4 separate regions of the Homo sapiens genome follow, and all the other regions are linked to region 2. The links come from fine-mapping of genetic effects on gene expression. A gene starts in region 2. Each other region holds a variant in brackets. All regions are shown on one strand. Distances are from middle to middle.

What was found. PIP is the estimated chance that this variant, and not a neighbour inherited with it, causes the effect.
Region 1: its variant is the best candidate, but not a certain one, in a credible set for the expression of PAK1 in whole blood (INTERVAL, PIP 0.62).
Region 3: its variant is the best candidate, but not a certain one, in a credible set for the expression of PAK1 in whole blood (INTERVAL, PIP 0.52).
Region 4: its variant is the best candidate, but not a certain one, in a credible set for the expression of PAK1 in monocytes after Pam3CSK4 (Quach 2016, PIP 0.85).

What each region holds. Positions count from the first base shown.
Region 1 is chr11:77,263,609-77,268,812 of GRCh38, reverse strand. It overlaps GDPD4 (glycerophosphodiester phosphodiesterase domain containing 4), which reads left to right. Exons shown (of 17, transcript NM_182833.3): 10 at 274-356. Among named protein-coding and RNA genes, the nearest start is that of GDPD4, 35 kb to the left of the region's middle. The variant C/T (reference allele first, on the strand shown) is at 3,168.
Region 2 is chr11:77,471,981-77,476,980 of GRCh38, reverse strand. PAK1 (p21 (RAC1) activated kinase 1) reads left to right here and starts at 2,887. Exons shown (of 15, transcript NM_002576.5): 1 at 2,887-3,429. RefSeq lists silencers at 2,653-3,012, 3,243-3,292, 3,313-3,622 and an enhancer at 2,863-3,779.
Region 3 is chr11:77,448,539-77,453,742 of GRCh38, reverse strand. All of the region lies in intron 1 of PAK1 (p21 (RAC1) activated kinase 1), which reads left to right. Among named protein-coding and RNA genes, the nearest start is that of PAK1, 23 kb to the left of the region's middle. RefSeq lists enhancers at 4,249-4,678, 4,258-5,028. The variant T/C (reference allele first, on the strand shown) is at 3,092.
Region 4 is chr11:77,496,363-77,501,566 of GRCh38, reverse strand. It overlaps a transcript of PAK1 not described here. Among named protein-coding and RNA genes, the nearest start is that of PAK1, 25 kb to the right of the region's middle. The variant T/C (reference allele first, on the strand shown) is at 2,265.

The DNA.
Region 1 (5,204 bases), 210 kb after region 2:
GATGGCAAGAATAAAGAGTTCATTGTAAAGGCTGGACTTGAATCCAGGCCACCTAACTCCCAGTCCATTTCTCTTTACTGTGCCCAGTGACATTGTCTCAGATGAGCAGAGTCCCAGAATCAGCTTGGACGGAGGGTATACAGGTTTTGAAAGGAGATCTCAGGGAGCCAAGCTCTGCTCCCCAAAATCCTACTGGGCTCTACCCCTACCACAAAAGGAATGCTGGGAGGAGAGACTCTGAGGCTTAGGGCCTGATGTCCTTTTCTTCTACAGTTGGGGCCTGAGAATACCATGATGTCCTTTGAGAAAGCTGTTGAACATGGAGCCCATGGATTGGAGACTGATATACACTTAAGGTAAGAAAGCAGGGAACTGGGGTGAGGGGAGGAGGGTATAAGTTCAATGCCATGCAAGAGAACCAGCCTGGCCTGAGGTTGTAGAGACAGCAAGCCCTGGGGAGTTGTTCCTGTGTTCATATGGCATATATGCATGTACTACACAAATGAACCACATCTCACAAACCGCACCTCTGCATCTCCATGTTTTCAATGACAGGGTTACAAATCAGACACACTAGATATAGTCTTCACACATGATTCACATATGGCCCCATTGCAAACCGTGCTTACCACTTCACTCTATGTACTACCTTAGCAATTTATTTAACATTCCTTGAGCATTTGCTGTATTCCAGGCCTTCTTCTGAGTGCTTGGGAAATGCAAATGAATAAGATGTAGTCATACCTAAAAGATGTTCCAGCTAGTGAAGGAGACATGGGATGTTTACAGATAACTACAGAATAAGGCCATTTGTGGCAAGAGCCTTCCAGAGAAAAATAAGTGTAATGGAACCTCAGTGGAGGAAAAGGTCACTTCCTGTTGTGTGGGAAAAAAAAGAAAAAAAATTTGTGTGCTCAAAGTTGTGTTTGGGTTGAGCCTCGAAGGAAAAATACCATTTTACCAAGCAGAGATGGGGGAAGGAGAAAATTCCAGGGAATTCATTCTGAAAAGCTTTTGCTCTAAGACCCTATGAGGAGAATGAAAAGACAAGTGTCAGACTGGGAGACAATATTTGTAAAACACATGTCTGGCAAAAGACTTGTGTCTAGGATATATAAACTTTCAAAACTCAACAGTAAAATGAAAACAAAAACAAATACAAACCAAACAATCCAATTAGAAAATGGACGAAATACATGTGTAGATATGTCACTGAAGAGAATATACAGATAGCAAATAAGTACATGAGAAGATGTTCAACTGCATTAACCTTTAGGAAAATGCAAATTAAAACTAATACTACTCATCTATCGGTATGGCTAAGTTAAAAAATAGCAAGAACAGTAAATGCTGGCAGACAAATTGAGTCACTCATATGTTCCTGGTGGAAACATAAAATTGTATAGCCACTCCAAGTAAGTCTGGCAGTTACTTAAAAAACTAAATACAGTCATATCTCACTTAATGATGAGCATACGTTCTGAGAAATGCGTTGTTAGGCAATTTTATCACTGTGTGAATATCATAGAGTGAACTTACACAAACCTAGATGGCATAGCCTACTACACACCTGGGCTATATGGTATGACCTGTTACTCTTCGGCTGCAAGCCTGTACAGCATGTTACTGTACTGAATACTGTAGGCAATTGCAGAACAATGGTAGGTATTTCTGTATCTAAATATATCCAAACATAGGAAAAGTACGGTAAAAATAACAATATAAAAGATAAAACATGGTACACCTGTATAGGGCATTTACCATGAATGGAGCTTGCAGGACTGGAAGTTGCTCTGGGTGAGTCAGTGAGTGAGTGGTAAGTGAATGGGAAGGCCTAGGACATTATGTACACTACTGAAGACTTTATAAACACTGTTCACTTAGATTGCACCAAATTCATAAAAAAATTTTCTTCAATAATAAATTAACTCCAGCTTATTGTAACTTTTTGACTCTTGTGATAACACTTAGTGTAAGCACAACTACATTGTACAGCTGTACAAAAATATTTTCTTTCTTTATAACCTTATTCTCTAAGCTGTTTTCTATTTTAATTTTTTTTTAACTTTTTTGTTAGAAACTAAGAAACAAGCACACACATTAGCCTAGGCTTACACAGGGTCAGGATCGTTCATATCACTGTCTTCTACCTTCACATCTTGTCCCACTGCAGTGTCTGCAGGGATAACATGCATGGAGCGGTCATCTCCTATGAAAACAATGCCTTCTAGAATACCTCCTGAAGGACTACCTGAGGCTGTTTTACATTTAATTTTTTAAATATATAATAGAATGTATATACTCTAAAATAACAATAAAAAGTGTAGTGTAGTAAATATATAAACCAGTAACAGTTGTTTATTGTCATCCTCAGGTATTATGTATTATCTGTAGTTGTATGTGCTATACTTTTATATGATTGGCTGTACAGGTTTGTTTACAGAAGTGTCACCATAAACATACGAGTAATGTATTGTGCTACAATATTACGGCTACGAAGTCACTAGGTGATAGGAAATTTTCAGCTCCATTATAATCTTATGGGGCCACTGTCATATATGAGGTCCGTTGTTGACTGAATTGTCATTATGTGGCACATTATATACTTACCATACACCCCAGAAATTGTACTCCTGGGCATTTATTCCACAGAAAAGAAGACAATGTTCATATAGAGAAAAACTTCACATTAATTTTCATAGCTGTTTTATTTGTAATAGCCCAAATCTAGAAACAACCCAAATGTCCTTTAAGAGGTTTAATGATTAAATAAACTGTATTCATCCATACTGTGGAATATTACCCAGCAATAAAAATGAATGAACTATTGAAACATGCTGCTATTTGGATGGACCTCATGGGAGTTACTTTGAGTGAATAAAGCCAGTCTCAAAAGGTTATATACTGTATGATTCCATTTGAAGATCACATTCAAATGACAAAATTAAAGGGATGGAGAAAAATCAGTGGTTTCCAGGGGTGAAGGAGGCAGAGAAGTGGCTCCCACTTTAAAAGGTAACACAAAACTCTTCTTGTATATTTACTTTTCTGTATCTTGACTATGGTGGTGGTGATATGTCTGCACATGTGATAAAATTAACAAAATATACAAATAAGTTCATGTAAACTAAATATAGAACTAAATATACAAATAAGTTCATGTAAAA[C/T]GAATGAAATCTGAATGAGGTCACAGATTTTATCAGTGTCAGTTTCCTTGTTGTGATAGTATAGTATAGTTATGCAAGATGTTACTATTAGGGGAAATGGGCTAAGGGTATATAGGATCTCTCTGTATTTCTTACAAACCCATGTGAATCTACAATCCTCTCAAAATAGAATTTAAAGAAAAGAATTGCGTTAGCTTTCTTAAGAAAAGATATAGATAAAGTGATTCTAAAATCAGAAGATGATCCATTCTGACATTTTAAAACTTTTCTAGGCCCTATATACTGCTCCAGTTTATGCTCCATGTCTTCACTTTCTTTTAAGCAGCATTCCTCCAAAGAGTGGTCTGTACTGCTCTAGAGGATCAAAAGGTTTTATTGGTCTACCCTTCTAGGTTCTTTGGCTAGTCTACAAATTAAATTGACATAAGACAGATTAACAGGAGAAAAATAATTTTAATTACCTATGTGCACATGGGAGTCCCACAAAAATTTGAAACTCAAGGAAAAGGCCAGATGATTGAAGCTTGTATAGTTTCCTGAGCTATAGAAAGGAATAGGGGTGTGCGGGGGCAGAGACAAATTGTGGTAAGAAGAGGGAAGAAAATGTGTGGTGAATAAAGGTTGTCTTATTAAACAGATATAAGTCTGTTGATAATAAAATGATTTCAGAGCAGCTCTCTTATTGGTACAGATACTTTTACTAATGAAAATTTCCTTTATAAATATAAATTTCCTTTACAAAAGGGCAACTTTTCAGAGCTTCTCCTGTGTCTGCAGTTTCTCAAAATAACCAGCTCAAAATAATCAATATGCCAAAGAGGTATATATTGGGGTGGCATATTCTGGTCTCCTGCCGTCATATTTTAGGGTGAGTGTCTTGAACTCCAACATTGCCTTTCTTTGCCTTCTCTCAGTTCTCCCCTTTGTTTTGGATAACTTTTAATCCTTTTTGAGCCTATCCCAATCAGGCTTCTTCTACACCACTTCTCAGAGCTCTTACTAAGTTATCAGGGACCTCAAACTTCTTAAACATCATAGTAAATTTTCATTTTCATCTTACTCTCTCAGCATTTGAGAAGTCCTTCATTTTTGAAAGACTTTCTTTATTTGGCTATTAGAATACCATACTCTCCTGATTTTCTTCCTACCTGGCTGTTTCCTATGTGACTTCTTTTGCTGGCTCCTTCTTCCCTTCTTGCCTTTAAAGTGTTGGAATTTTTGAGATTTGTGATAATATAGTTGTAAAGGATGTTTGATCCCTACCCCAAGTTCACCCCAAAGTGAATTTGATAGTGCTCATCCCACTTTATAAAATTGCAGCTATGTTGTTCTTAAATGTGAAACACGTTTATATGAAAAAACCTTCATTTGAATATATTTTTGAGAAACATTTGAAAAGGCAGAGACATTTTTTAAATCTAAAAAGCAAGTAATGTAAACAAGTTATTTGCATCTGAGTGAAAGCCTATGGGAGATTCTGAGAAGATCTACGCAAAATTTTTGGCTGCTATTATTCCCAGTCCTCTTATAAAATTTTTAGCATAAAAGCCCAGCCAGCCATACACCTCTCTGGAGAACACTGAATTAAGTTTTCTGGGGATTGCAGAAACACACAGATCCTGAAGAAATGTTGACCTCCTCGTGTGGACCAATAGGAGAAATCTTGCCAACAGTCACTGGAAGTCCATGGAAGCTGAGTTAGATTGAAAGATCCCAATAAGCTTGTTTGTGCCTATTGCTCTTACTCCCTCTCTACTAATGCAGTCTCCGCCTAACTTTTTAAGGGAAATAAATGTAAATGTCACACATAACAAGTATGTGTGTGATAACTAGTTTCTGTTGGTATTGCCTACCCTTTAGCATCCATGATGAACAAAATGTCAAAAATTTTAATGAAGATGTGTCATGCCAAGCCATATGAGAACCTGAGACAAAAGGAAAAATCAGTAATACTATCTTATCTTCATTTAAAATTTAATATTTTGTTTATAGTGGATTTTTGCATTGGTTTTGTCTTTTAAATATTGTATTAAAATA
Region 2 (5,000 bases):
AGATGGAGTTTCACTCTTGTCTCTAGGCTTAAGTGCAATGGCGCAATCTCGGCTCACAGCATCTTTACCTCCTGGATTCAACCGATTCTCCTGCCTCAGCTCCCGAGTAGCTGGGATTACAAGCATGTGCCACCACGCCCAGCTAATTTTGTATTTTTAGTAGAGATGGGGTTTCACCATGTTGGCCAGGCTGCTCTTGAACTCCTGACCTCAGGTGATACACCCGCCTCGGCCTCCCAAAGTGCTGGGATTACAGATGTGAGCCACTGTGCCTGGCCAACAATACACATTTATTATTTCACAGTTCTGTAGTTCAGAAGTCCTAAATGGATGTCAGTGGGCTAAAATTAAGGTATCATCAGGATACCATCTCTTCCTTTCCAGAGGCTCCAAGGGAGGATCCATTTTCTTGCCTTTTCCATTTTCCAGTCTGCTCCCAAAAGCTGGAGAGTCCCTTTCCCCAAATCCTCAATTTACTCACATCTGCAGAGTCCTTTTGTCATGGAAGGTAACATATTCATAGTTCCCAGGGATTGGAATGTGAACATTCCATTGGATGAGCCATTATTCTGCCTAGTGCAGAGATCACGAAAAGACAATCCAGATTAGAGTCAATTTACTGGGTTAGGATCCTGGGTTAAGTTACTTAACCCCTCTGTGCCTCAGTTCCCGCATCAATAAGATGGGTGAGGATAACAACAGTATCTACCGTAGAGGGTAGAGGTTTAAAGACAGTGTTTGTAAAGTGCTCAGAACAGTACCTGGCACATAGAAAGAACAATAGGAACATTTATTAAATACATTTTTTTTGAGACAGAGTTTTGCTCTTGTCACCCAGGCTGGAGTGTGGTGGTGCAATCACAGCTTCCTACAACCACCGCCTCCTGGGTTTAAGCAATTCTCCTGCCTCAGCCTCCTGAGTAGCTGGGATTACAGGTGCCTGCCACTACGCCCGGCTAATTTTTGTATTTTAGTAGAGATGGGGTTTCGCCATATTGGCCAGGCTGGTCTCAAACTTCTGACCTCAGGTGATCTGGCTGCCTTGGCCTCCCAAGTGCTGGGATTACAGGCGTGAGCCACCGCGCCTGGCCTTATTAAATATATTTTAACAACATATTGATACTTAGGTATATGTCAAGCACTGTTTTAGGTGCTGAGGATATGGAAAGGAATATGACTTGGAACTCAAGAAATTAGATACACAAATGCAGTTACTTCCATAAAAGGCATAGAAATACTATAGAATTACAGTTTTGTTAAGGCTTAGGGAAACTTTAGAAATATTAGTCAAATGAATATGAATATGAATATGAATGACATTTGAGCTCAGCTTTGTACAATGAATAGGTGTTGGCCAGTCAGCTAAGTAGGGAAGAGCTTGAAGACATGAAGAAATGTGTATTCAAATAACGTTAATATTTCAGTGTGCTTGGAGCAAAAAATAAATGATGTGAGACAAAGCTAGAAAGGCTAGTGTAAGCAGTCAGGTAATAAAGTGCCAAGTTCAGGAGTTTGAACTTTATCCTGAAAGCAATAAAATCCTTTCGGTGTTTAAACGGGAGGACATCATCAGATTTGTGCTTTTATAAGGCTACTCAGGTAACTAGTGAGAAAAATAGATTGAGTTTGAAGAGACTAAAGGTTGCTCCAGTTGTTCAGGTGGTGGTAGTAGAAGACGACACAGGCAAGGACTTGAAAAATATTTAGGAGAAGCTACAAGACTTGGTGTCCAACTTGATATGGATGTTGAGAGAGGAAGAACGGGGAGCTATTAGTATGTCTAGGTTCCTGGCTTAGGGGATTGTTGAATGGGTGGCCCATTCATTGAGAACGGAAAGGAACGTAAGAAGCAATTTTGGGGGGGAAATAATAATAATAGCCAACATTCTAAAGGGCTTGTTACTATTACCATGGTAAAACTGAGGCTTAGGAAGACCTAGTTAAGGTACTACTTATTATTACAGAAAAATTACGGCTTAGAAATGTCAAGGTCCTATCACTAATATTTGAATAGCTAGGATTTCAAGCAAGGCAACCTGATTCCGGACTCTTAGCCTTTCTAATGCTGTCTCAGTTTCGCACATGTTGAATCTGAGGTACGAAGAGTATGCAGGTAATGCTGCTCGGGAGGTATTGGGAAATACACAATCTGAGCTCAGGAGAAAGAAAGCTTTGGGTCGAAAGTACCCTCCACGGTAGGGGAAAAAACGTGAAAGGAAGCCCATTCTTTTCGTATGTCAGTTCACATTAGTTCAAACATCTCCGTTATAATTTCTTTGTCTTCCTCCCACCCCTGCCCCCTCTCCCACAGAAAGAAAACATAATACATGTCTGGCTGTGAGATCACACGACATCGGATAGTTTTCAAATTCAGCCCTTGACAACGAGCTCATAGATGCGGTGGTGCTTTGTTAACCTGAAAAGGACCCTCAGCGCCGGAAGTTAGCCGTCTTTCTCCATCCTGACTACTACAGTAGCCCTCCCAGAAATCGTCCCAAAATTGTCTGATAGAAAGGCTGCACGGAAACAACCCGCCACGGACAGCGGACCGAGAACAGTGACGCGACGCGATGACGTCACGCAGCAAGCGGGTGATTCCCCAGCCTCTGGCGTCACGCGCCGATGACGTAATCCCAGGCGTTCGCCCTCATGCGGGCCAGGGTTTGGCCTCGCTCCCACGGGTCGGTCAGGCCCTCCCCGCCCCCTCTCACCTGCGGGAGGCGGGGCGGGCACGGCTCCACCGGAGCCGCAGCCGCCGCCGCCGCGCCGGGGAGGGGGAGTGGGGGAGGGGGAGGGGGAGAAGGGGAAAGGGCAGAGGGGAGGAGGAGGCGGGAGGAGGAGGAGTAGGGGAGCCAGTGAACTAGGCGGTCAGGCCTGCCGGGCGGCGTACAATAGCGCGGCTGTGGGCGGGGGAGGCTGCCCTCCCGCGGCTGCAGCCGGAGCCGAAGGTGGTGGCTGCACAGTAGACGCCCCCTCACGGCTTCCCCCACACGCTCCCGCCCCCTCGCTCGCCCATCGCGCTTCCCTCACAGGCTCTGCAGTCCTCCCCCACAGACGCCTTCCCCCTTGGACTCTCATTCCCTTTTCCACGGAGCCCCGCGCTTTCGTGAGCCCCCTCGAGGAACCTGGTCTCCGCATCCAGTTACCACCTCCTGCCTCAGAGGCCATCTGAGCCCTTCGCACCTCGCCCCTCAGTCCCCCCTTCCCCCCCCGCCCGCGTCGCCTCGCTCCCTCCCGCCCCCCCATCATCCCTTCCCTCGCAGTTCCCCTGTCCTGAGGGGAGCCCCGCCACGGGCAGCGCGGCGGCGGCGGCAGGAGGGAGAAAGTGAAGCGGTAGCTCGCGCACACTCGCGCCCTCACTCCCGGCTAGGCGGCACCCACCGCCGGGAGGAGGAGGAGGAGCCGAGAGGAGCTGAGCGAGCGCGGAAGGTGAGAGCGGGCCTACCGCCCAGTACCCCTCGCGTCCCGGGCTGCCAGGGCTGGGGCGCGGGGGTGGGGACGGGTGGAGTGGGGGTCTGGGCCCATTTATTTCGCGTTGCGGGGCCGGGCGCCTGGGCGGGAGGAGGCGCCAGGTAAGGTGAGGCGGGCGGCGCCCCGCGAGGCCCGCTCCCGTCGGGCCAACAAAGGCCCCCTGTGCGCGTACCGGCGGGGTCGCGGGTCTCAGACGCCGGGCGATTCGAGAGACCTGGGAGAGGGAAGGGGCGGGGCGGGGCCAGGCCAGGCTGGAGCCGGGAGGCCACACGAGTACCGGTCCGGGACCGAGTCCGTCCCGAACTTCGCAGTCCTGCGGCGCTCACCCTGTCCCGCTACGAGGAGGCACAGCAAAGCGGCGCCCAGTTCCTTCTGCATGGAATAAATGACCCCTTCCAGGCTTGGACAGTCACCTTTAGGGTTCTACTCCCTGAAAAATAAGGGCTGGTAGGACTTGACTTACGCAGCCCCTCCCCCACCCCGGAATATTCTGTAACTTGGGAAGTGAAAAACAACCGGGGAAGGAGATTTATAGTTATTTTATGTTCATTATTACGTTTGAAAAGACATGATTGTTGTAGCCTTCGCTATCCTATTTCAGCAGTACACATTACTGGGAGTGTTTTGGAAGAATACTTGAGAAGTAGTGGGTGTGGCGTTGTGAGCAACGTCCTTGGTTTTTAAACCCCTTGGATAATTGTTCTACTGTTACAAAAACTGTGAACAGTGAAGGGAAGGGTTAGTTCCGTGGTTACTAATAAAAATTCAGATTCATTAGTCTTGACTTTAAGAATTGTTCCTGAGAACAATCTTTAATTTTGCCTCCTACATTTTTGGGTTCTCTTTCAACTCTGTCAGGAGAAAGTAGGAATTATCAGTACAGATACCTCATCTCTCTTACCCTGTGGCTTCATCTACTTCTTGTGTGACCTTGAGCAGGTCACTTCCAGCCTTAAAAGCTCCAGAAGTTTGGTTTTATGCCCCAAAACGGGCAAGTAGCAAGCACCGGACTCAGCTTTCAAGAGTCCACTGAAGAATTCCCACACTGTGAAGTCTTTGCTGGCCTCCATCCTGTCTCTCCTCTTACAGACAGAGCTGATTTCTTCCCATTGGCCCGGTGGGATTTCTACCACAGCACTTACAACATTTTGGTTCCTATTTGGAAAATTCTAAGTCAGGTGCATATAAAAACTCCCCACCTCAACTAGAAACTATGCCTTTCAAAAAGGGTTTTGGGAACATTGACCCTGAAAACTTCCCATACTTTCCCTGAAGCTTATCCATACTCTTTAACTACATGAGCTCATGGGTCTACCTTGGTAAATTTGCTTATTCAGTCAATTCGTTTATCCAACATTACTGGAGTTCGGAGAGCTACTATGTTTCAGGCCTCTTGCTAAGGCTATGGGGATTCAGTCTATTAAGATATTCCCTGTCTTCAAAGAGCTCAAAGTCTAATGGGTGAGGTAGACAAGTAAACAATGAAGGTCTGCCCTAATCTCTGGGGGACTCCAGTTGTACAGGTAGTA
Region 3 (5,204 bases), 23 kb after region 2:
GGTTCTGCTCTGCAGTCTTACCCTGGGGCATTATATGAATTATTTGGCTGTTACAGGGATAGTGCAGTTCCTTTTGCTCTTATAACTAATATGTATTCAGCTTGCTGTGACCATACATATTTTATGTTCTTCCCTGGCACTATAATTCATTCCTTTTTATTTTCTCCTGTGAGGTAATTAAAATTTGTAATACCATGCCCTTTTCCCCCTTGTTTTTTTTTTTTTTAATATATCTCACATTTTCTAAATATAGAATACTTACAAGTTCATGTTAAGTTTCAGTGGGAAAGGTGTTTAGAATCAGTTTGGACTCTCTCCTTTGCTTTATATATAAAGAAACTAGGACAGACAGGGAAATAATTTTTCCAAAAAAATTTTTTTTTTTCCTGAGACTGAGTTTTGCTCTTTTCGCCCAGGCTGGAGTGCAATGGCGCGATCTCGGCTCACTGAAACCTCTGCTGCCTGGGTTCAAGCGATTCTTCTGCCTCAGCCTCCTGAGTAGCTGGGACTATAGGCGTGCGCCATACACCTGGCTAATTTTTGTATTTTTAGTAGAGACGGGGTTTTGCCATATTGGCCAGGCTGATCTTGAACTCTTGACCTCAGGCGATCTGCTTGCCTCGGCCTCCTGAAGTGCTGGGATTACAGGCGTGAGCCACCGCACCTGGCCTCCAAAATCTTATATATCCCACTTCTTCCTTCTTCCTATTTCTTGGCATGGATGAATTTACATCTGGGGCTTTCATTTTTTTGTTCTGTAATACTAGTAAAAAGTCATTTGTAGATTGTTTAGATCTGATGGGATTTAGTTAAAGTCATAAGCCTGATTTGCTGTGAGGCAGGGCTGATGTGCCAACCTAGGAAGAGAGAAAGCTAGTGAATAGAAGTGTTAGGAATCCAGCAGAGGGAAAAGGGCCCTACCATGAACACACTCTTTACTCCTACTTGGCTTGTTATTAGATGTGCCAACCCTGTTATTAGGTGGCTTATGGCTTCTTCTTTCTTTATATCTAGGGTGTTTGAGGAAGGTAAATATGCCTTTTGAATGGGTAATTTCTACTCTTTGGTGCTGAGCATTTTCCACCTTCGTCTATACTGTAAATAACCAGTCTTTTTTTTTCTTTTAGAAAGTTACTGCTTGAGTGGCAAGGAAATTAGAGAAACTGCTTCTCATAGACTAGTTGGGTTGCTGGCTGAAGGGGACCCTAGGAGATGTCTAATTCAACACCCTTATTTTATGAATGAGAAACTGAAGCCAAGAGAAGAAAAGCAGCTCATTCAATATTATATAAGTTAGTTACAGAGTCAAGACCACATCTCAGCACTTCTGACTCCCTATTAAGTATATTTTTACTACACCTCTCTGCAAGGCAAGTGTAAGAGGAATTGTGGGGTAGTGTAAAGAGTGCAGATTTGAGGGCATGAGATCTGGGTACAAACTGTGGCTCTGCTACTTACTGACCTGTTTCTCAGAAAGTAATATCACTTCCTTAAGCACCAGTTTCCTATTTATAAAATGAAATTATGTTGATACTCTGCCTCACAGCGTTATCATTAGAATGAAATGTGAGATGCAGGGGAAAAAATGAAATGAAGACTTTAAAGTGGACGTGGCCAATTTACTTATGAATTTTTAGCTCCATCACTTATTAACTGTGTGATTTTGGGCAAGTCACTTAATTTCTGTGAACGTAGTTTTTTCTTTGTAAAATTGAGACAATAATAGCTCTCTTACAGGGTTGTTTTGAGGACATTAATATATATAAATGTAGGGGAAAAGAAATATTTTTCCCATTGCTATGTTCATGGCTGAGGCTCCTGTAGCAAAAGACATTAACGAGAGAGGTCGGGCGTGGTGGCTCACGCCTGTAATCCCAGCACTTTGGGAGGCCGAGGCAGGCGGATCACCTGAGGTCAGGAGTTCGAGACAGCCTGACCAAAATGGTGAAACCCCGTCTCTACTAAAAATACAAAAAATTAGCCGGGCGTGGTGGTGGCGCCTGTAGTCCCAGCTACTCGGGAGGCTGAGGCAGGAGAATGGCATGAACCCAGGAGGCGGAGCTTGCAGTGAGCAGAAATCGTGCCACTGCACTCCAGCCTGGGCGACAGAGCAAGACGCCGTCTCAAAAAAAAAACAAAAAAAAACAAAAGACATTAACGAGAGAAAAGCAAGCAAATATATTTAATACAAGTTTTACATGACATAGGAGCCTTCATAAGGAAATGAGGATGCAAAGAAACAGGCAAACTTGTGTATTTTTATGTTTAGGTTTGATGGAAGAAGTGGGTAGTCTTGGAGAAATATGATTGGACAAAGGCGGTATGATGTAATGGTAATAGGATCAGGGTTGGAGGGAACTTAGCAAGGCTGGTTTGTTCAGATTTTTCTGTATGTCCCTGTGTCTTCAGAGAAAAATGAGGCTTTCCTCTGGGAATAAGGAGGGTACCTCTTGAATGAGGATCTGATTACCTGCTTCAGGGGAGAAGGGTGAGGGGAAGCTGAGAGTGAGAATACTTTCTTGCGTCTGCTGTTTTCTCATATGCTAAGATGTCATATTTTGGGGTAGCATGTCTTGAACCCCATTATAAAGAATCAAAGTGGTGGCTGGAACATAATAGGTAGTCAGTAAATGTTTGAGATATTCTCAGAAGACTTAGTTCTGTCTTCTCAAATGGTTTCCCTAAAGTCTTAAAATAAATACATCAGAACTTCTTGTTCTGTGGTTTTAAAGTGTTTTGTGGAGTTTGATTCCAGAGGCTATAGGTGGTGTAAGGTATGAGCTTTGCTGTTAGTCAGATTTCCATTCTAAACTCCTGTGGCACATAGGCAAGCTCTTCTGCCCAGAGAAGGGCCTCTAGAGATGGCAGGTTTTGTGGTAAATGGATTGAAAAAGAGGAGGAGGAAACTTGGTAACTGGGAAACTTGGGTCACTTCTGCAGGCAGTTGCAGCCCACTGAATAGCAGTATGTCAGGACCTTAGTGGTGAAACCATTTTTCATTGTGATCTCTGTCTCTGTTATTCTAAGTGTCTCAAAAACTGGAACCATGTCTAAGTCCTCTGCTGTTTCAACACCTGACCCACAGTAGATA[T/C]GCCAATGTATTTTTTTGAAATAATATCTATCTAAAGTGGAGAACTTCTGTGGCCCATAGAGTTCCATAAATCCCTAATGGCTCCTAATTCTTCACCCCAGCTTCACCTTGCAGAGATATTTGTATTTAACAAGGATTTTCTAGTCTTTAATCATAAGGATTTGCAGGATTTCAGGTCTTGGGTTTTTTAGGCCTTGCTCTGCTGCCTACTTCCCTTTGCAAATATGGTCAGGCCAGACAGCTATTTCCTTCATCCCTAGTCATTGTGTGGGACCTGCCAGGTTCTTTCGGGTTTTTAATGCTGGGGTGGTATTTGTGGCTTTAATGCACAAGAGTTGGGGAGCATGAAACCCACATGATCAGGTAAACATCATTCTCTCAGTGGGTCCAGGGTTATGAGAAAACATAATGCTGGGATGTTCTTTCTTCCCAACTCTACCCCTAGAATTGATACTTTTATGTAAGCCATTAATTCAGTAAATACCTTCTGAGCATATATACTGTGGATCAGACATTCTGCTGGGTGCTTTAAATAATTATCTTTCCAAATACTCACAAGTTAATACTTTGAGTTAGACTGAGGGTATTGCCTTCAATTTCGCAGAAAAGGAGTCTGAAGTTTAGATGAAAGGAAATGACTTGCCTTAGCTAGTAAAGGGCAGACCCAGGATTTGAAACCAAGTCTTCATGACTAAAAGATAATCATTGATTGTCATGCTTGTCTATGCTTTCAGAATGGGAAGCTCCTTGAAGATGCATGTCTGATTGAATTTTTGCTCCCTGTTCTCAGCACAGGGGCTAAAACAGAATTTTTAAAAAATTGAATATGTAATACATTGGAAAGTCCTAGATAGAATAGGGGAATTGGGGTGAGGGTATTGAGAAACTGTTTCCTAGTCCACATTATTTCCCTGGAGAAGCTCCAGTCCTTAGGGTGATTTTTTTTTTTTTTTTTTTTTTACCTATAGGATTGAAAAGGAAAGCATTATTCATTCCAGCAACCCATAAGGAAAACTAACACAAACATTGTAATGCTTTAAAGATCTTCGTGTCTCATTGGGAAAATAACACCTCCTTCACTGTGTTATTTTGAGGAAAAGTGAGATGATAAAAGAGTCTGCCTGAACTCTAACGTTTTATGTTAAGTTGTTTTCATGCCTGGCTTTACCTGCCCTATCCCCTTTCTGGGCTTCAGTTTCTCTATGTGTACAGTGAGATGTTGAACTGAATGGTCTTGCTGCTCTTCCTTCCTTCATTAACATGAGAACAGATAGTTGATGCCTCTGATGTTCATGTTGTTCCCATTGCCCTTTTCTCTTTAAGCGCACTGCCTAGTTTCCTTTAAAGTCGTTGCCTTCTTTAGTTTTCTTTTTAAGCTGTTTCTGTGTGGGCTAGTGTTCCCTTTTGAGGTTGAATTGAATTGTGTAAGGCCTCAGGAAGTGGTGGAAGCACCTTCCTCAAACCTGGTTGCACCAAAGGCCCATCAAGTCAAGTCTTGTCCCCAAAGAGGAAGAGAAAGCCTGGGGTTCTTAGCCCAGGCTAAGATTGAAGGAGTTTCTCTTTCGAGCTTTCTGGGTTAATTTCAAAACGTACAGGAGGGACATTTTCTTTTAAATTTCAAACACTCACCCTGTATATCATTAATATTCCTTAGCCATTTTTGTATAATATCATTTTTTAATTTCTATCCACCTTCTTAAATCTGTCCCTTGGGTCAGACAAAATGAATTCAACCTTTCCTCCACATGACAATTCTTTATAATCACAATAGTGATTTTATTACTGTTCTTCTCCAGCTAAATAGTTTCAAGAGTTTCTCAAATGACTACCTCTTTTTGCCTATTATACCACTTTGCTTTCCACAAAAAACTTCCCATGGGTAGTCCCTTCCTCATGCTAATCTTATTTCTGGTTCTGTATAACCTATCACTTCTTTGTAAGTTTTCACACTATTGCTGAAATAAGCCAAACATTCTTTCTCATGTTCCCTTAACTTGGGTCTCATAGCATTTTGTTTGTTTAACATGTTTTCCTTTGCTTGCTGTCCTTACACTCAACAACCTTCAAGACCAAGTTCAAATATCTGTCTCTGATGCCTTCTCTGACATTGTCC
Region 4 (5,204 bases), 24 kb before region 2:
CTTGTATGGATCACTGGAACAGGGTGGGATCAGCCCTGCTCAAGCCATTTGAGAGAAGGGGTAAGGGTGGTTCCCCAAGGGAAAGCTGTTGCTTATTACCCGAGAAGAGGGGTCGAATTCAGTGAATGCTCAGCAGGCACAGAGAAAAGATGCCACCACAGGGAGTAGAGAGAAGAGAGAAGGATGAAGAAGAGAGGAGTCAGTGGAGAGACTGAGTCCGGGTGGAGTGAAGGGCCGGGGAAGCTCCCCTCTGGCAGATAGTGGTCCTTCCATTTTGAATTGTTTGCTTTGCTATGGATGTGAAACTCTCCTGGATTTCCCCTTCATCCTCCACATTGCCAGCAAATTCTACTAACTTCAAAACTGCTCTATGGGAGTGGGTTGTTTTTTGTTTTTTGTTTTTTGTTTTTTTTTTTGAGACGGAGTCTCGCTCTGTCACCCAGGCTGGAGTGCAGTGGTGGGATCTTAGCTCACTGCAACCTCCGCCTCCTGGGTTCAAGCGATTCTCCTGCCTCAGCCTTCCAAGTAGCTGGGACTACAGGCGCCTGCCACCACGCCCGGCTAATTACCCGGGATTGGGTTTTTGGTGGAAATTGGAGGGACTAAGTTTTGAATGTGGATCTGCACACTGCAGAACAGAGGACCATGTGGGGAGCCAGGAGCCCAGAGGCTAGCTGGCTGTGGTAAGAGAAGTCTGTTGGGAAAGAACTGAATTTTTTTTTTGAAACAGTGTCTCACTCTGTCTCCTAGACTGGAGTGCAGTGGTGTGAACACAGCACATTGCTGCCTCAACCTCCCAAGCTCAAGCAATCCTCCTGCCTCAGCCTCCTGAATAGCTGGGACCACAGGCATGCATCATCACACCCAGCTAATTTTTTTGTGTGTGTGGAGACAAGTCTCAGTGTGTTGCCCAGGCTGATCCTGAACTCTGGGGCTCAAATGATCCTCCTGCCTCGGCTTCCCAAAGTGCTGAGATTACAGGTGTGAGCCACTGAACCCAGCCAGAACGGAAATCTTGAGGAGGGCTTTGGATTTCCACAAGACGTGGAATTGGAGGGAGGAATCCAGTTAATTATGTTTCGACTTTTTTTTCTTTTTTTGAGGTGGAGTCTCACTCTGTTGCCCAGGCTGGGGTGCAGTGGCACAATCTCGGCTCACTGCAACCTTCGCTGCCTGGGTTCCAGCAATTCTCCTGCCTCAGCCTCCTGAGTAGCTGGGACTGCAGGCATGCACCACCATGCCTGGCTAATTTTTGTATTTTTAGTAGAGACGGGATTTCACCATGTTAACCAGGCTGGTCTCGAACTCCTGACCTTGTGATCCGCCCACCTCGGCCTCCCAAAGTGCTGGGATTACAGGCGTGAGCCACCGCACCCGGTTTATATTTTGATCTTTAAGGGCAGGAGGGCTCTCAGTTGAATCTGAGTTATGTATATTCATCTTTGCTATACAAATTCTGTGTTTGTGAATTTTCATTTTTATGAACTGATTATAACAAAATTTTCCAAGGGAGCAAACTTCTTCCACTCACTTATGGTCAGGGCTTGCTTATCTCAGATGCGTGTGTTCAGAGGTCTTCCAGCCACTTTCAGAGCCAGGTGTAGAAGCAGAGATGGAAGTGTTCGCTGATGCTGGATGGTGGATTTATCAGGTGAGTGCTAGAGAAGGTCAAAAGGGTGAGACATTTAGCCAGGCTGTATCCATTCTGTTCTGTAGAAGCCAAAATGCCGGAAAGTCTACTGCTCTGTGTGTGTATGTGTGTGTGTGTGTGCAGTGTCAGCACAAACCAACTCAGTGCTTAGGGAGCAATATGGATCCAGGGCCCACATCAACTCTAAATTAACATTCCCTGACTGTTGGGACAGACAGGCATGTAAACAACTAATTAAGACAAAAAGTGTAATAAAGGTATAACGAAAGTATCACTGGAATACTTAAGAGGCAGTACCTACTTCCTCTAAAGTTGAGAAGGGCAGAGTGGGCATGAAAGACTTCCCAGAGGTGGGATCATGGGTTGGATCTAGAAGGATGAGTAGGAACTATACAGTGAAGGATAAAAAGGAGGAAATGCATTCCAGGATGAGGGAACAGCTTGAGTGAAGACATCTCTAAAACTGTATGAATAGTAGGAACATTTGTCTGAAAAATATATTTATTTACATGTATACATGTGGAAGAGACTATGCACCAAAATGTTAGCAATAAGCCAGGTGTGGTGGCATGCACCTGTAGTCCCAGGTATTCAGGAGGCCAAACTGCGAGGA[T/C]TGCTTGAGCCCAGGAGTTCAAGACCAGACTGGGTAACATAATGAGACCCCATCTCAACACAAAGAAAAAAAATGTTAACAATAGATATTCCTGGTAGGATTATAAGTGAATTTTTGAAATTTTATTTTCCTCCCTTTAAAAATTATCCTTCTCTTTTTTTTTTTTTAGTAGTGAGTGGGTATCACTCATTAATATGAAAAGTTAAAGACCTTCTGCCAAGTTTGGTAAATTTAATAGAAGGCTTTATATTAGACTTCTATGTATAAAAAAAATTTCTTGCAGTTTGAAGAGGGAATAAAATTTGGCAGGGCGTGGTGGCTCATGCCTGTAATCCCAGCACTTTGGGAGGCCAAGGCGGGTGGATCACAAGGTCAGGAGTTCGAGACCACCCTGTCCAACATGGTGAAACCCAGTCTCCACTAAAAATACAAAAATTAGCTTGGCATGGTGGCGTGTGCCTGTAGTTCCAGCTACTTAGGAGGCTGAGGCAGGAGAAATGCTTGAACATGGGAGGCGGAGGTTGCAGTGAGCTGAGATCTTGCCATTGCATTCCAGCCTAGTGACAGAGCAAGACTCTGTCTCAAAAAAAAAAAAAAAAAAAAAAAAAAAATTACAAGCAAGGGTGTTAAAAATACAATTATTTCTTCGGGCATTCATTTAACAAATATGTACCATGTATTCTTTTGAGGTTGCTCAGATGATACAGGCAGGGAGAGCCCTTCAAAGGCAGGCCATATAGATAAAAAATGAATGTAAGACAAGGCAGAGAGGCCAAGGACTGTGAGAGGTGGGCCGTGGCACCATGTGTGTGTGTGTGTGTCGGAGAAAGAGCAATAATGAGCTTTTATAAATCACTGCAATGATTCCTGTCAGCATTATCCAAAAAGACAGCAGACATCACACTGGAAGTGTGAATTCTGACCCATGAGTGGGTCATGATATCAGTTTAAATGGTCAAGACTGGAAATTTTTGTTTTGTTTTTAAATAAACTTTTCCTTTTGGAATAATTTTAGATTTACCAAAAGCATAGAACGATAGTTCAGAAAGTTTCCACATGTTTTTCACCCAGCTCCCCCTAATGTTAACATATTACATAACCATGGTACATTTGTTAAAGTAAGAAATTAACATTAATGTAATATTATTAACTAAACTATAGATTTTATTTGGGTTTCACCTGTTTTTCCACTAGTGTCCTTTTTCTGTTCTACGTTTCCAGAATACCACATTACATTTAGAAGATTAGAATTTTTTAAAAAATGAAATAATATAAAATAGAATAGAAAATACTTGCACAGACTAAGGTTAAGTATTATTTTATGAAAAGTTGTTTCTACTACATATGTAGGATGTATTTTTTACTGAAGGTAGCAGTTTTTTAAAAAAGAAACAGTCTTAGAAGACACCTAAAAATTAAATATTCTTGCCATTGTGAAGATTAATATTCTAGTGAAAAACAAAAAACACTTGCATACAGCATTGTGAGCACTATATCTCAAAGTCAGAAAATGCAAAGGAAACTAAGACAGTAGGAATCAGAGGACACAGCAAGAGAGAGATCCTTTTGTTCCTTCCATAGTGATGTACTGAACAGCTTTGCCCTTTGGAATAGAACTGACTCCCTACATGCTGCTGAGTTGGATGGAATTCTTGGCTCAAGCAGCTGAACAGAATTCATCACTTGATAGAAATACACCACACACACGATCTCAGAGCCCAGCAATGCTGTCCCCATGTCCCTCTCCTAAGCCAGGCTGTGCCCCTTGTAAATGAATTAATGGCTGTGAAAGCAGTTGGTAAAAGGCAGTTGGTATGTGCACTTTGAGTGAGTCACTTTCCTTCTAAGTGAGTCACTTTCCTTCTGGGTCTCAGTTTCCTCATCTGTAAAATGGGGCTTCCCCATATGGCTTTTGGGAGAATCAAGTGAGAAGAAGAAAGTGTTTTATAAATTGTTAGGGGCTATACAGATGAATGTAAAAATTATTATTTCAGATGTGAATTGTCATTGGTCAACCTTTTGAGGGCAATAATTATATTTTATTCATCTCCATACCTCTAGTGCCTACCACCATAGCCATCCCACAGACTCATCTCCATGGGGAGATAAGGACCTGGGCACACCTTCCCCTTCCTGGACTTGGAGATGTTCGCCCAGTTCCTGAAGGCTTCCCACACCCTGTCCTGCTCCTCTATACAGTGGGACAGATTCAGGCTAGATAAGCTCCATTGACCTTGCAGATTCAGGAGTGAGTATGGACCTTCACCAGAGCCCTGCCTAGTGAAGAGTCTCCTCAGTTCAAAGGAGGCTACTGAGACTGGTTCTGGGTTCAAATCACCCATTTCAGTTTTTTTATTTTTATTTTTATTTTTTTTGGAGACATAGTCTGTTGCCCAGGCTGGAGTGCAATGGCATGATCTAGGTTCACTGCAAACTCCACCTCCCAGGTTCAAACAATTCTCCTACCTCAGCCTCCTGAGTAGCTGTGATTATGTGCACTCACCATCACGCCAGGCTAATTTTTGTATTTTCAGTAGAGACAGCGTTTTGCCATATTGGCCAGGCTGGTCTCAAACTCCTGACCTCAAGTGATCTGCCTGGCTTGACCTCCCACAGTGCTGGGATTATAGGCATGAGCCACTGAGCTCAGCCTGAGTTTTTATTTTTATTTCTTTTTCTTTTCTTTCTTTTTTCAGGTTCTTGCTCTGTTATCCAGGCTGGAGAGCAGTGGCTCACTGCAACCTCTACCTCCCAGGCTCAAACAATCCTCCCACCTCAGCCTCTTGGGTAGCTGGGACTACAAGCGTGCACCACCACGCTGGCAAATTTTTTTGTATTTTTTGTAGAGCCAGGGTTTCACTGTGTTGACCAGGCTGGTCTTGAACTCCTGGGCTCAAGTGATCTGCTTACCTCGCCTCCCAAAGTGATGGGATTATAAGA